4 linked regions of the Homo sapiens genome follow. The protein of the gene in region 1 purifies or fractionates together with the protein of each later gene. This does not show direct contact. Each region holds a gene or a part of one and is shown in the gene's direction. Other genes may lie near its edges.

Region 1 (3,357 bases):
CATCTCGATATTAATGGTTTTTCCACTGAACTGAAACATCAACGGATTGAGCTCCTATTATATCCAGGGTCTGGGCTGCACTTAGGCGTTACAGAAGTGAGCAAGAAACCCAGTATCTGTTCTCAGCATTTCTGTAAACAGCCCAGGCATTTTCAACTTTAGTTTCCTATTAGAATCACCCAGGCACTGAAGTGTACTAATGCAGGGCCAACCCCAGAGCAACTGAATCAGAATCTCTGGGGATGAAGCCTAAGCATAGAAATTGTTCTAAAAGCTCTCCAGGTGATTCTAGTGAACAGTCAGGGCTGAGAACTGCTAGTCTGTTATAGACTCCTGTCTTGACCTTCGTTCCTGATTATACACACCCACACATCCATTTCAAATAGGTATGGCTTACATAACTTACTAGATTTTAGACTTTTAGTGATGTTTGGCACATGAATGGAATACAATATATTTGGATTACAAAAATGATTCTGGGCTAGGTGCTGTGGCTTACGCCTATAAGCCCAGCACTTTGGGAGGCTGAGGTGGGAGGATCACATGAGCCCAGGAGTTCAAGACCAGCCTGGGCAACATGATGAGACCTCTTCTCTACAAAAAAATGGAAACATTAGGTGGAAGGATTGCTGGAGCACAGGAGATGAAGGCTGCAATGAGCCATGATTGTGCCACTGCATTCCCACCTGGGTGACAGAGAAAGACCCAGCATCAAACAAAACAAAACAAAAACCTCTGTCCATTGAATGCTATCTAAAGCATTAATAATTTTTTTTTTTTTTTTTTGAGACGGAGTCTGGCTCTGTCACCCAGGCTGGAGTGCAGTGGCACAACCTCGGCTCACTATAACCTCTGCTTCTCGGGTTCAAGCGATTCTCTGCATTAGCCTCCCAAGTAGCTGGGATTACAGGTGCATGCCACCACGCTGGCTAATTTTTTGTATGTTTAGTAGAGACGGGGTTTCACTATGTTGGCCAGGCTGGTCTCGAACTCCTGACCTCGTGATCTGCCAGGCTCAGCCTCCCAAAGTGCTGGGATTACAGGCGTGAGCCACGGCGCCCGGCCCATTTTTTGAAAATCTAAATGTGTACATAATTGCAGACATCTTGATACTTCACCTAAACTTCAGCCTGCACCTCCGAGAAATAAAAATATTCTCTTAGCTATCACAATGCTGTTGTTATACCTAAGAAAATTAAAATTAATGGACATTTTCTCAATTGTTTCCCCATAGTATTTTATTGCTATTTCTTGGCTTTTCCACTTGTTCAGCATCTGATCAAAGATCATGCACTATATTTAGTTGCTGTCTCTTTGGGAAAGCCTATTCTCTTAACTCTATTCCGTGTTACCTGGGAAATGCTTAACTCAACCGCAACACTTTATTTCCACAGCCTCATCTCTTTGGCCAACCTCCCTCCCTCAGGATTGGCAAATGCAGTAGCAGAGGGAATTCGCTCAGAAGAAAACATCTATACCATTGAAGAGAACGTATATGAAGTGGAGGAGCCCAATGAGTATTATTGCTATGTCAGCAGCAGGCAGCAACCCTCACAACCTTTGGGTTGTCGCTTTGCAATGCCATAGATCCAACCACCTTATTTTTGAGCTTGGTGTTTTGTCTTTTTCAGAAACTATGAGCTGTGTCACCTGACTGGTTTTGGAGGTTCTGTCCACTGCTATGGAGCAGAGTTTTCCCATTTTCAGAAGATAATGACTCACATGGGAATTGAACTGGGACCTGCACTGAACTTAAACAGGCATGTCATTGCCTCTGTATTTAAGCCAACAGAGTTACCCAACCCAGAGACTGTTAATCATGGATGTTAGAGCTCAAACGGGCTTTTATATACACTAGGAATTCTTGACGTGGGGTCTCTGGAGCTCCAGGAAATTCGGGCACATCATATGTCCATGAAACTTCAGATAAACTAGGGAAAACTGGGTGCTGAGGTGAAAGCATAACTTTTTTGGCACAGAAAGTCTAAAGGGGCCACTGATTTTCAAAGAGATCTGTGATCCCTTTTTGTTTTTTGTTTTTGAGATGGAGTCTTGCTCTGTTGCCCAGGCTGGAGTGCAATGGCACAATCTCGGCTCACTGCAAGCTCCGCCTCCTGGGTTCAAGCGATTCTCCTGCCTCAGCCTCCTGAGTGGCTGGGATTACAGGCATGCACCACCATGCCCAGCTAATTTGTTGTATTTTTAGTAGAGACAGGGTTTCACCATGTTGGCCAGTGTGGTCTCAAACTCCTGACCTCATGATTTGCCTGCCTCGGCCTCCCAAAGCACTGGGATTACAGGCGTGAGCCACCACATCCAGCCAGTGATCCTTAAAAGATTAAGAGATGACTGGACCAGGTCTACCTTGATCTTGAAGATTCCCTTGGAATGTTGAGATTTAGGCTTATTTGAGCACTGCCTGCCCAACTGTCAGTGCCAGTGCATAGCCCTTCTTTTGTCTCCCTTATGAAGACTGCCCTGCAGGGCTGAGATGTGGCAGGAGCTCCCAGGGAAAAACGAAGTGCATTTGATTGGTGTGTATTGGCCAAGTTTTGCTTGTTGTGTGCTTGAAAGAAAATATCTCTGACCAACTTCTGTATTCGTGGACCAAACTGAAGCTATATTTTTCACAGAAGAAGAAGCAGTGACGGGGACACAAATTCTGTTGCCTGGTGGAAAGAAGGCAAAGGCCTTCAGCAATCTATATTACCAGCGCTGGATCCTTTGACAGAGAGTGGTCCCTAAACTTAAATTTCAAGACGGTATAGGCTTGATCTGTCTTGCTTATTGTTGCCCCCTGCGCCTAGCACAATTCTGACACACAATTGGAACTTACTAAAAATTTTTTTTTACTGTTTTTTGTTTGTTTGTTTGTTTTTTGAGATAGAATCTCGCTCTGTCTGAGTTCATTGTAGATTCTGGATATTAGCCCTTTGTCAGATGAGTAGGTTGCGAAAATTTTCTCCCATTTTATAGGTTGCCTGTTCACTCTGATGGTAGTTTCTTTTGCTGTGCAGAAGCTCTTTAGTTTAATTAGATCCCATTTGTCAATTTTGGCTTTTGTGGCCATTGCTTTTGGTGTTTTAGACATGAAGTCCTTGCCCATGCCTATGTCCTGAATGGTAATGTCTAGGTTTTCTTCTAGGGTTTTTAGGGTTTTAGGTCTAACGTTTAAGTCTTTAATCCATCTTGAATTAATTTTTGTATAAGGTGTAAGGAAGGGATCCAGTTTCAGCTTTCTACATATGGCTAGCCAGTTTTCCCAGCACCATTTATTAAATAGGGAATCCTTTCCCCATTGCTTGTTTTTCTCAGGTTTGTCAAAGATCAGATAGTTGTAGATATGCGGCATTATTT
Region 2 (3,500 bases), on another chromosome or scaffold:
CAGCCCGGCAAATTTTTTTGTATTTTAGTAGAGATGGGGTTTCACCATGTTGGCTAGGCTGCTTTTGAACTCCTGGCCTCAAGTGATCTGCCCGCCTTGGCCTCCAAAGTGCTGGGATTACCAGTGTGAGCCGCTGCACCTGGCCCCTAAGTGCTGCTTGCTCACCCCCTATTGATGAACCTTATCTGTGACCCCATGTAACTCCTATTTGACCCTGTCTGGCCCCTTGTCCCTAGAGCATGACTTCGGTGCTGGAACCTGTGTTGGACCTCACGTACCCAGTCACCTCCATGTTCACTGGGTCTGCCTTTAACCGCAGCATCCATCGGGTCTTCCAGGATAAGCAGATTGAGGTAGGCCCACCTCATCCCCTGCCCTGCCTACCCCTCCCCGGAGGAGCCCCCTGCTCCTCCCCCACCTCGATCCCTGTCCCCGCAGGACCTGTGGCTGCCTTACTTCAACGTGACCACAGATATCACCGCCTCAGCCATGCGAGTCCACAAAGATGGTGGGTGTCCCCGCCCAGCCTGCAGCAACCGCTGACGCCACGTGGGGTTGGGGGGATGCTTCCGGGAGGGCCGCTGAGCTTCTGGGACGTTGTTAACACGAGTGACCGTCCACCCTGGCCCGATCACCGACCACTAACCGCCACCCACTAATGCCCCGGAGACCCCAGGTACGTCCGTCCTTGGGGGAGGGGAGCAGGGAGACTCGTCGGACGCCTTACCCCCCTCACGCCATCCCCGCAGGCTGTGTGTGGCGTTACGTCCGGGCCAGCGCCTCCTACTGCCCCTACCTGCCCCCACTGTGCGACCCCAAGGACGGGCACCTGCTGGTGGACGGGTGCTACGTTAACAACGTCCCAGGTCAGCGAGCCCATCGGGCCGGCTGGGCCTCCGGCGTGTCTGAGCGTGTCTGTGCGTGTTTGTGTCTGTGTGTCCCACCGCGCAGGCTCCCTGTGGCGGTACGTGCGCGCCAGCATGACGCTGTCGGGCTACCTGCCCCCGCTGTGCGACCCCAAGGACGGGCACCTACTCATGGATGGCGGCTACATCAACAATCTGCCAGGCAAGTGGCCGCCCGCACCACCCGCACACGCAAGCACCTCCCGCACCACACACACGCACACGCGTGGGCACACACAGACAGGCTCGATGACGGGACACATGCCCAAGCTGCCCATGCAGGGGTGCAGACACACATGCGCACACATACGATCACTTGCACAAAATGATACATGAATGTGCCTGTGGACAGCGACATGTGCAGTTGAGATCTACATTCTGGCCAGGCGCGGTGGCTCAGCCTGGAATCCCAGCACTTTGGGAGGCCTGAGGTGGGTGGATCACCTGAGGTCAGGAGTTTGAGACCCGCCTGGCCAACATGGTGAAACCCCGTCTCTACTAAAAATACAAAAAATTAACCAGGCTGGTGGGGTGTGCCTGTAATCCCAGCTACTCAGGAGGCTGAGGCAGATAAATCACTTGAACCTGGGAGTTGGAGGTTGCAGTGAGCTGAGATCATGCTACTGCACTCCAGCCTGGGCGACAGAGCAAGACTCAGTCTCAAAAAAAAAAAAAAAGAAAGAAAGAAATCTACATCTACCTGCTGGCGTGCTGTGTTAAGCACAAGTGGATGTACGTACAAGAGGGACAGGTGCACACGTCCACACACACATCAGGGGACATGCAGGTGGAATGCAACACTCGTGTGCACACCAGCTATATATGCACATGCTTTCTCTCAGGGGCAGGTAGGGCTTACACACACGTGTACACACAGGCACATGTGCACAGATGAACACGTGTGTCAGTGAAATAGGGCATTTGCCAACGCATGCCAGTCTGTCCCGTTTGTCCTGCACGTTCCCTCAAACACGCAGGGATGTGCACACACGTAGATAGGATGCGGCACCTCTGACCGAGTTAAGTCATGCCTACCACCTTTATGGGTGCAGGTGAGAAGCGGGCAGGTACACAACTTAAAATCTCACACCCCAGAAGTGTGCATATATGAACAGACATGTACGCCAACTGCACACATGCTCACAATCTTGTAGGCCAGGGGTGGGCAAACTATGGCCCACAGGCTGAGTCCTGCCCTCTGTTTGATTGTATAAATAAAGCTTTATTGAGCTGGGCACAGTGGCTCATGCCTGTAATCCCAGCACTTTGGGAGGCTGAGGCGGGTGGATCACTTGAGGTCAGGAATTCGAGGCCAGCCTGGCCAACATGGTGAAACCCGGTTTCTACTAAAAATACAAAAATTAGCTGGGCGTGGTGGTGTATGCCTCTAATCCCAGCTACTTGAGAGGCTGAGGCAAGAGAGTTGCTTGAACCCGGGAGGTGGAGGTTGCATCGAGCCCAGATCGTGCCATTGCACTCCAGCCTGGGCGACAGAGTGAGACTCTGTCTCAGAAAATAAAACAAAACCTCCCAACACCTGACCCCCCTCCTCAACTTCAGTTGCATCATTTGCACGTCTGTGCATGACAGCATGGTGTTTGCATGTGTGGGTATTCTCTCTTTTTTTTTTGCGTGATCATTTGCATGATGGCATCTGTGGGACTGGGTTGAACATCTCTGCCCCGGGCCCCCGAGGGGAGCAGCCCGCTGACCCCCCTGGCCCCACAGCGGACATCGCCCGCAGCATGGGTGCCAAAACGGTCATCGCCATTGACGTGGGGAGCCAGGATGAGACGGACCTCAGCACCTACGGGGACAGCCTGTCCGGCTGGTGGCTGCTGTGGAAGCGGCTGAATCCCTGGGCTGACAAGGTAAAGGTTCCAGACATGGCTGAAATCCAGTCCCGCCTGGCCTACGTGTCCTGTGTGCGGCAGCTAGAGGTTGTCAAGTCCAGCTCCTACTGCGAGTACCTGCGCCCGCCCATCGACTGCTTCAAGACCATGGACTTTGGGAAGTTCGACCAGATCTATGTGAGTGGGCAGGAGTGGCATGGTGCCTGCATAGGTGGTCCGGCTAAGCTTTGCTACTTAAAGCCCAGAGTGGTATGAGGGGGAGGAATCCAGGAGGAATCCAGGAATCCCATCTGGAATCTCTGGAAAACAGATCAGTGATCAATTGGTGATGTCTGCAGGGGATGTAGTAGGGGTGTGGCTGTGCATGTGCTGTGTAAGAACTTTCTCCTTATAGGCCAGCTGCACCCCTGGAAGCACTGTATAGTGATTTCTACTGCCATTTCTGCATTGGTGGGAATGAGAATAGTGATGAAGCAGAAATGTCTGCCACAGTTCCAGGAGAGGGAGGTAGCAGTGCGTGTGTTATGTGCTACTGACCCTGAAAAATGTGCCATAGCCCAAGCCAATTGAAATTGATCAGGGGGCCAGGCATGGTGGCTCATGCTTGTAATCCCAGCACCTTGGGAAGCTGAGGTGGGAGGATTGCTTGAAACCAGGAGTTCAAGACCAGCCTGTGCAACATAGCAAAACCCCATCTCTACAAAGATTAAAAATAAAAAATTAGCTGGGTGTGGTTGTGCAT
Region 3 (3,500 bases), on another chromosome or scaffold:
TCGCCGGGCGCGGTGGCTCACGCCTGTAATCCCAGCACTTTGGGAGGCCGAGGCGGGCGGATCACGAGGTCAGGAGATCGAGACCATCCTGGCTAACACGGTGAAACCCTGTCTCCACTAAAAATACAAAAAATTAACCGGGCGTGGTGGCGGGCGCCTGTAGTCCCAGCTACTCGGGAGGCTGAGGCAGGAGAATGGCGGGAACCCCGGGGGGCGGAGCCTACAGTGAGCCGAGATCGCACCACTGCACTCCAGCCTGGGCCACAGCGAGACTCTGTCTCAAAAAAAAATAAAAAAATAAAAAAATTAGCCAGGTATGATGGTACGTACCTGTAGTCCCAGCTACTTGGGAGGCTGAGGTGGGAGGATTGCTTGAGCCCAGGGAGGTTGAGGGTACAATGAGCCATGATCGCGCCACTGCACTCCAGCCTGGGCAACAGAGAGCCCGTCTCAAAAAAAAAAAATTAGGCTGGGCACGGCAGCTCATGCCTGTAATCTCAGCACTTTGGGAGGCCGAGGTGGGTGGATCACCTGAGGTCGGGAGTTCGAGAGCAGCCTGACAAAAATGGAGAAACCCCGTCTCTACTAAAAAATACAAAATTAGCCGGGCCTGGTGGTGCATGCCTATAATCCCAGCTACTCAGGAGGCTAAAGCAGGAGAATTGCTTGAACCCGGGAGGTGGAGGTTGCAGTGAGCCAAGATGGCACCATTGGAATCCAGCCTGGGCAACAAGAGCAAAACTCTGTCTCAAAAAAAAAAAAAATTTGCAAAAATTAGCTGGGTGTGGTGGCGGGCGCCTGTAGTCCCAGCTACTCGGGAGGCTGAGGTGGGAGAATGGCATGAACCTGGGAGGCGGAGCTTGCAGTGAGCTGAGATTGTGCCACTGCACTCCAGCCTGGGTGACAGAGTGAGACTCCAAACAGAGTGAGACTCCGAGCAGAGTGAGACTCTGAGCTCTGTCACCCAGGCTGGAGTGCAGTGGCGCGATCTCGGCTCACTGCAAGCTCCTCTTCCCGGATTCATGCCATTCTCCTGTCTCAGCCTCCCGAGTAGCTGGGACTACAGGTGCCCGCCACCACACCTGGCTAATTTTTTGTTTTTGTATTTTTAGTAGAGACAAGGTTTCACCGTGTTAGCCAGGATGGTCTCGATCGCCTGACCTTGTGATCTGCCGGCCTAGGCCTCCCAAAGTGCTGGGACAGGTGTGAGCCACCGCGCCCGGCCAAAAAAGTTAATTTTCTTATCTTGCACTGAGATCTGTCTCCTTGTAGCAGCAGCCAAATCATCATCAACAAATAATCTGAGAGCATGGGCTTTGAAGCTGTATCCCACCGAGATACAGTGAGAGCTGGAAAGGCCAGTGCCTGTCTCCACAGAGCACTGCTACAGGGCCGACTGACCCCATTCCATTGTGAGCAGAGCTGAGAAGAGGAAATGCAGGCTCTGGATGGAGCCCTCTCACCTGGCCTTGGGGAATCGAGGAATATTTTCTTTTCTTTTTTTTTTGAGATGGAGTCTCGCACTGTCGCCCAGACTGGAGTGCAGTGGTGCGATATCAGCTCACTGCAACCTCCGCCTCCTGGGTTCAAGCAATTCTCCTGCCTCAGCTTCCCGAGTAGCTGGGATTACAGGCCTGCACCACCATGCCTGGCTAATTTTTGTATTATTAGTAGAGACAGAGTTTTGCCATGTTGGCCAGGCTGGTCTCAAACTCCTGACCTCAGGTGATCCATCTGCCTTGGCCTCCCAAAGTGCTGGGATTACAGGCGTGAGCCAACCATGCCCGGCCCAAGGAATGTTTTCTAGAGGAGGTGGTGTCTTGGCCTTGAAGGACTTACACGGGAGTACTTATGGCCAAGTAGACAAGTTGAGGAACGCAGAAGAAACAGCTTGTTAAAAGGCCTAGAAGTCAACTACTCAAGGCCACCCCATATCCTGTCCCCTGGCTAAACACCCCAGATACTTGAGTTGTCCTTTTTTTTTTTTGAGATGGAGTTTTGCTCTTATTGCCCAGGCTGGAGTGCAGTGACACGATCTTATTGCCCAGACTGGAGTGCAGTGGCGCAATCTTGGCTCACTGCAACCTCCGCCTCCCGGGTTCAAGCAATTCTCCTGCCTCAGCCTCTTGAATAGCTGGGATTACAGGCATGTACCACCACACCTGGCGAATTTTTATATTTTCAGTAGAGATGGGATTTCTCCATGTTGGTCAGGCTGGTCTCGAACTTCCGACCTCAGGTGATTTGCCCGCCTTGGCCTCCCAAAGTGCTGGGATTACAGGCGTGAGCCACCTCGCCCCACCTCTTTTTTTTTTTTTTTTGGAGACAGAGTCTTGCTCTGTCGCCCAGGCCGGATTGCAGTGGTGTGATTTCGGCTCACTGCAAGCTCTGCCTCCCGGGTTCACGCCATTCTTCTGCCTCAGCCTCTCGAGTAGCTGGGACTAACTACAGGCGCCCGCCACTGCGCCCGGCTAATTTTTTGTATTTTTAGTAGAGACGAGGTTTCACCATGGTCTTGATCTCCTGACCTCGTGATCTGCCCACCTCGGCCTCCCAAAGTGCTGGGATTACAGGTGTGAGCCACCACGCCCGGCCTTTTTTTTGGGGGGGGTGGGGGACAGAGTCTTGCTTTGTCGCCCAGGCTGGAGTGCAGTGGCATAATCTTGACTCACTGCAACCTCCGCCTCCCAGGTTCAAGCGATTCTCCTGCCTCAGCCTCCCAAGTAGTTGGGATTACAGGCGCCCACCGCCATGCCCGGCTAATATTTGTATTTTTAGTAGAGACAGAGTTTCACCATGTTGGCCAGGCTGGTCTCGAACTCCCGACCTCAGGTGATCCACCTGCCTCAGCCTACCAAAGTGCTGGGATTACAGGTGTGAGCCACCACGCCCGGCCTCAAGTTTTTGTTTTGTTTGTTTTTTTTTGAGCTGGAGTCTTGCTCTGTCGCCCAGGCTGGAGTGCAATGGCACAATATTGGCTCACTGCAACCTCTGCCTCCCGGGTTCAAGTGATTCTCCTGCCTCAGCCTTCCGAGTAGCTGGGATTACAGGTGCCCACCATCATGCCCGGCTGGTTTTTGTATTTTTAGTTGGGATGGGGTTTCGCCATGTTGGTCAGGCTGGGCTTGAACTCCTGACCTCAGGTGATCTGCCTGCCTTGGTCTCCCAAAGTGTTGGGATTACAGGCATGAGCCACTGCGCCCGGCCGAGCTGTTCTTTCTAAGCTTCTCTTTCTACCCTGGACCCCTGCCTTTGTTTACAAGTTCTCTCTGTGTGTAACCCCCAGGCCCAGACTCTCCCTAAATGATACTCTTGGGCCTGCTTCGTGTCCTCAAAAGCTGCTAGATCCCCACTGCTTTCTCTACCCTTTGAGGGACAACCCTCTAGTGACGTGACACATGAACTTACTCCGTTGACAAAACACGTTTCATATCCATTGGGAGAGGTGGGGCAGAGCTGGGACTCACCTCCACTGTTCAGATGGGGAAACTGAGGCCCAG
Region 4 (3,500 bases), on another chromosome or scaffold:
GCCCTGCAACCTGGCCCACGCCGAAACACTCGTTATCGAAATAAGAGACAAAGAGGTGAGAGTCAGGCTGAGCCTGGGGCTAGAGAAGCGCAGTGAGGGTCAGGGTCGGGGGTGGAGGATGCTTGGGTGCCAACCCGGCCACTGACTTTCCATGGGACATTAGGCAGGTCCCGCTCTTCTCTGGACCTCAGCTTTCCCATCTGAGCATTGGGCAGAAGGGACGGGTCGGGTGGTTTCTGGAGGGCTCTCCATAGCCTTGATTTCTGCCTTCTCCAGCAGGGGCCGCCTGGCTGTAGGACAGGGCCTGGGAGGGGAGGGGACTCTTCTGAGACTGAGTCCATACCTCTGTGTTCCAGGATAGTTCCTGGCAGCTCTTCACTGTCCAGGTGCAGACTGAGGCCATCGGCGAGGGCAGGTGAGGCAGCCCCATTGCCCCTTCCCAGAAGCCCCTGCTACCCTGGCCTCCCCAACTTCCCCAACCCTCGGCCCCCCCATAAAGGCTGACTCTGGCGCCTCCCATCCTAGGGAGGGAAGATGGCTCTGTGAGCACAGGGAGGTGCCAGGGCAGCTCCCAGAGCTCGAGAGTAACCCTCACCTGCTTCCCCAGCCTGGAGCCGTCCCCACAGTCCCAGGCAGAGGATGGCCGGAGCCAGGCGGCAGTTGGGGCGGTACCAGAGGGTGCCTGGAAGGATACGGCCCAGCTCCACAAGAGCGAGGAGGCGGTGAGTGTCGGACAGGTGGGTTCTGAAAAAGTCCTTGCCCCTCTCTCGGCCTCGGTTTCATGATCTGTGCAATGGGAGAGTCAGACTTCATGTTCTCCCACCACCTTTTAGTTCTGTTGTCCCAAACATCCAGGATGCTGTCTGAGCACGTTTACACTTTCAGGCCTCTCCCCACCTCTCTGTCTGGTGACACCAGTCCCTGCCCCCTACCCCCATCCCTCGGCTCCCAGCATAAGCACACTGCTTCTGGGGCCGGGGCCAGCTTCCAACCCATCCTCTCCTCTCTCCCACCCAGAAGCGGGTGCTGCGGTATTACCTCTTCCAGGGCCAGCGCTATATCTGGATCGAGACCCAGCAAGCCTTCTACCAGGTCAGGTAGGAGTCAGGGCCTGTGTGGCTCATGTCACCTCCCAGAGTGGCACTGGTTTGGGCACAGACGGTGGCATGGCATGGCCTGGGCTCCCCTCTCAGCTCTGATGCTTTTGCTGTCTGAAACCTTGGGCAGGTTACTGAGCCCCTCCAGGCCTGGGATCTCTGTCTATAAATAGGGCATGAAGATAACTTCTGCCTCCTAGGATTGTTTTGATGGTGAAATAGATAATAATTTATGTAGAGCTTGGCACCGAATGTGATCTGAGGTTGTGACACCACTGTGAATCAGACTATCAGCTCTGTACTCAGACTGTCTGCTTGGGGTTTAGTCACTGCTCTGCCACCTACAAAAGGCTTAAGAAACATGAGCTCAGGCTGGGTGCGGTGGCTCACCCCTGTAATCCCAGCACTTTGGGAAGCCAAGACAGGTGGATCACGAGGTCAGGAGTTCAAGATCAGCCTGGCCAAGATGCTGAAACCCCATCTCTACTAAAAACACAAAAATTAGCTGGGCGTGATGGCATGTGCCTGTAATCCCAGCTACTTGGGAGGCTGAGGCAGGAAAATCGCTTGAACCTGGGCGGCAGAGGTTGCAGTGAGCCAACATCGCGCCACTGCACTCTAGCCTGGATGACAGAGCATGACTCCATCTCAAAAAAAAAAAAAAAGAAAAAGAAACACAAGCTCACCACACACCTTAGTTTGTGTGTATGTGTGTGTGTGTGTGTGTGTGTGTGTGTGTGTGTGTGGTTTTTTTGGTTTGTTTGTTTGTTTTTTAAGATGGAGTTTCACTCTTGTTGCCCGGGCTGGAGTGCAATGCCGCATTCTCGGCTCACTGCACCTCCGCCTCCTGGGTTCAAGCGATTCTCCTGCCTCAGCCTCCCGAGTAGTTGGGATTACAGGTGCATGCCACCACACCCAGCTAATTTTTGCATGTTTTGTAGGGACGGGGTTTCACCATGTTGGCCAGGCTGTTCTCAAATACCTGACCTCAGGTGATCCACCCGCCTCAGCCTCCCAAAGTGCTAGAATTACAGGCATGAGCCACCGGGCCCTGCTCACACACTTTAGTTTGAATGCCGCAGAAGCAGACCCCCAGACAAGGGCTCAAGGGCAGGGAGTTTGTTTTGAAGCTGATCCCAGGCAGTGCTGGGGAAGGGATGGAAGCACGGAGGGAGGTTATGCTGGCTGCCACAGCTGTGGACACCCGGACTTCAGTCGCCTGGGGATCTCCTTGGGCCAGCGTAGACCACACACCTCTGGGCGACCTCACACAGGGAGTGAGGACAGTTACCATCAAATTCCCTGCCATTATCAGTCACGGGACACAAAGTCTTCCACGCTTTCCGGGCTCACAGGCAGGGGATTCACATGCAGCCAGAAGGCCTCAGGTAAAGACAGGTGTTTTCAGGGTCCAGCTGTCATGTGGAGGTGAGGCAGAGGGGAGATGGGGATGGCAGCAACAGCCTCTGCTGCATGATGGGGATAATAGCAAAAATCACCCGTGCATTCATCACTTAGCAAGTGGCAGGCACGTCCAAAGCAGTCCCCGAGGCTTGCCCCACTTAATCTACCCATGGCCCTATGTGGTAGGTGCTGTCACTGCCCCCATTTTGCAGATGAGAAAACTGAGGCACAGAGAGGTTAAGTGACTTGCCCAGGGTATCATCAGTGTAAATAGTGCCCTTATCACTAAATAACAGCTACTCTTTTCACTGTTCATATTATTAGCATCATCTCTCGCTGTTCTCCTTCTTCAGTGACTTGGTTTGGAACCCAGTGAGAGGAACAAAAGGGCAAAGCCAAGCCTTGGGTTCAAGGGGGCTTACTTGCTCCCAGGAGCTCAGTGTGGCAGAACGGGGATGGGGGGCCTAGAGCCCATAGTCTCCAGCCTGCACAGGGTGGGGGATGCAGACCTCAGGCCCCATGGCCCATGCGTGTCCCCTCGCACCCACCCCCAGCCTCCTGGACCATGGCCGCTCTTGTGACGACGTCCACCGCTCCCGCCATGGCCTCAGCCTCCAGGACCAAATGGTGAGGTCAGTGCTGCCCTGGACCGGGGTGCCCTGAGAACTGGGGCTCCTTGTGTTGCCCCCCAATGTGGTTGCCTTCCAGTCACCTGCCTTCTCTGGGCCTCAGTTCCCCCAGCTGAAAGTGGGGAGCTCCTTCACCCCGGGAGGGTCCAGCCACAGCTCCTCCTTCTGATGGCTTGGCCTCATCCCCTCTTCCAGGAAGGCCATTTACGGCCCCAACGTGATCAGCATACCGGTCAAGTCCTACCCCCAGCTGCTGGTGGACGAGGTAGGGCTGTCCCTGGGTCTTGCCCCAGCCCTGCCTGGCGTGCTGTGTGACCTTGGCCCAGGGCTTGCCTCCTCTGGGCCACTTTACGGTGGCAACCAGACCAGC

What was found. Proteins that work in one complex are often made in the same cells at the same time.
Region 2: the proteins of HAVCR2 (region 1) and PNPLA6 purify together in Homo sapiens (co-immunoprecipitation; 3 studies listed by BioGRID and IntAct, with this or other methods). This does not show direct contact.
Region 3: the proteins of HAVCR2 (region 1) and PKN3 purify together in Homo sapiens (affinity purification with mass spectrometry; 2 studies listed by BioGRID and IntAct, with this or other methods). This does not show direct contact.
Region 4: the proteins of HAVCR2 (region 1) and ATP13A2 purify together in Homo sapiens (co-immunoprecipitation; 3 studies listed by BioGRID and IntAct, with this or other methods). This does not show direct contact.

The regions. Positions count from the first base shown.
Region 1 is NC_000005.10:157,085,332-157,088,688, reverse strand, and holds the end of HAVCR2 (hepatitis A virus cellular receptor 2 precursor), read left to right. Parts: intron 1-1,394; coding exon 1,395-1,587; 3' UTR 1,588-2,857; downstream 2,858-3,357. UniProt on the Homo sapiens protein: Cell surface receptor implicated in modulating innate and adaptive immune responses. Generally accepted to have an inhibiting function.
Region 2 is NC_000019.10:7,556,217-7,559,716, forward strand, and holds part of PNPLA6 (patatin-like phospholipase domain-containing protein 6), read left to right. Parts: intron 1-236; coding exon 237-353; intron 354-438; coding exon 439-508; intron 509-951; coding exon 952-1,068; intron 1,069-2,633; coding exon 2,634-2,935; intron 2,936-3,500. UniProt on the Homo sapiens protein: Phospholipase B that deacylates intracellular phosphatidylcholine (PtdCho), generating glycerophosphocholine (GroPtdCho). This deacylation occurs at both sn-2 and sn-1 positions of PtdCho.
Region 3 is NC_000009.12:128,709,003-128,712,502, forward strand, and holds part of PKN3 (serine/threonine-protein kinase N3), read left to right. Parts: intron 1-3,500.
Region 4 is NC_000001.11:17,001,929-17,005,428, reverse strand, and holds part of ATP13A2 (polyamine-transporting ATPase 13A2), read left to right. Parts: coding exon 1-55; intron 56-356; coding exon 357-415; intron 416-607; coding exon 608-737; intron 738-1,017; coding exon 1,018-1,097; intron 1,098-3,055; coding exon 3,056-3,133; intron 3,134-3,325; coding exon 3,326-3,395; intron 3,396-3,500. UniProt on the Homo sapiens protein: ATPase which acts as a lysosomal polyamine exporter with high affinity for spermine. Also stimulates cellular uptake of polyamines and protects against polyamine toxicity.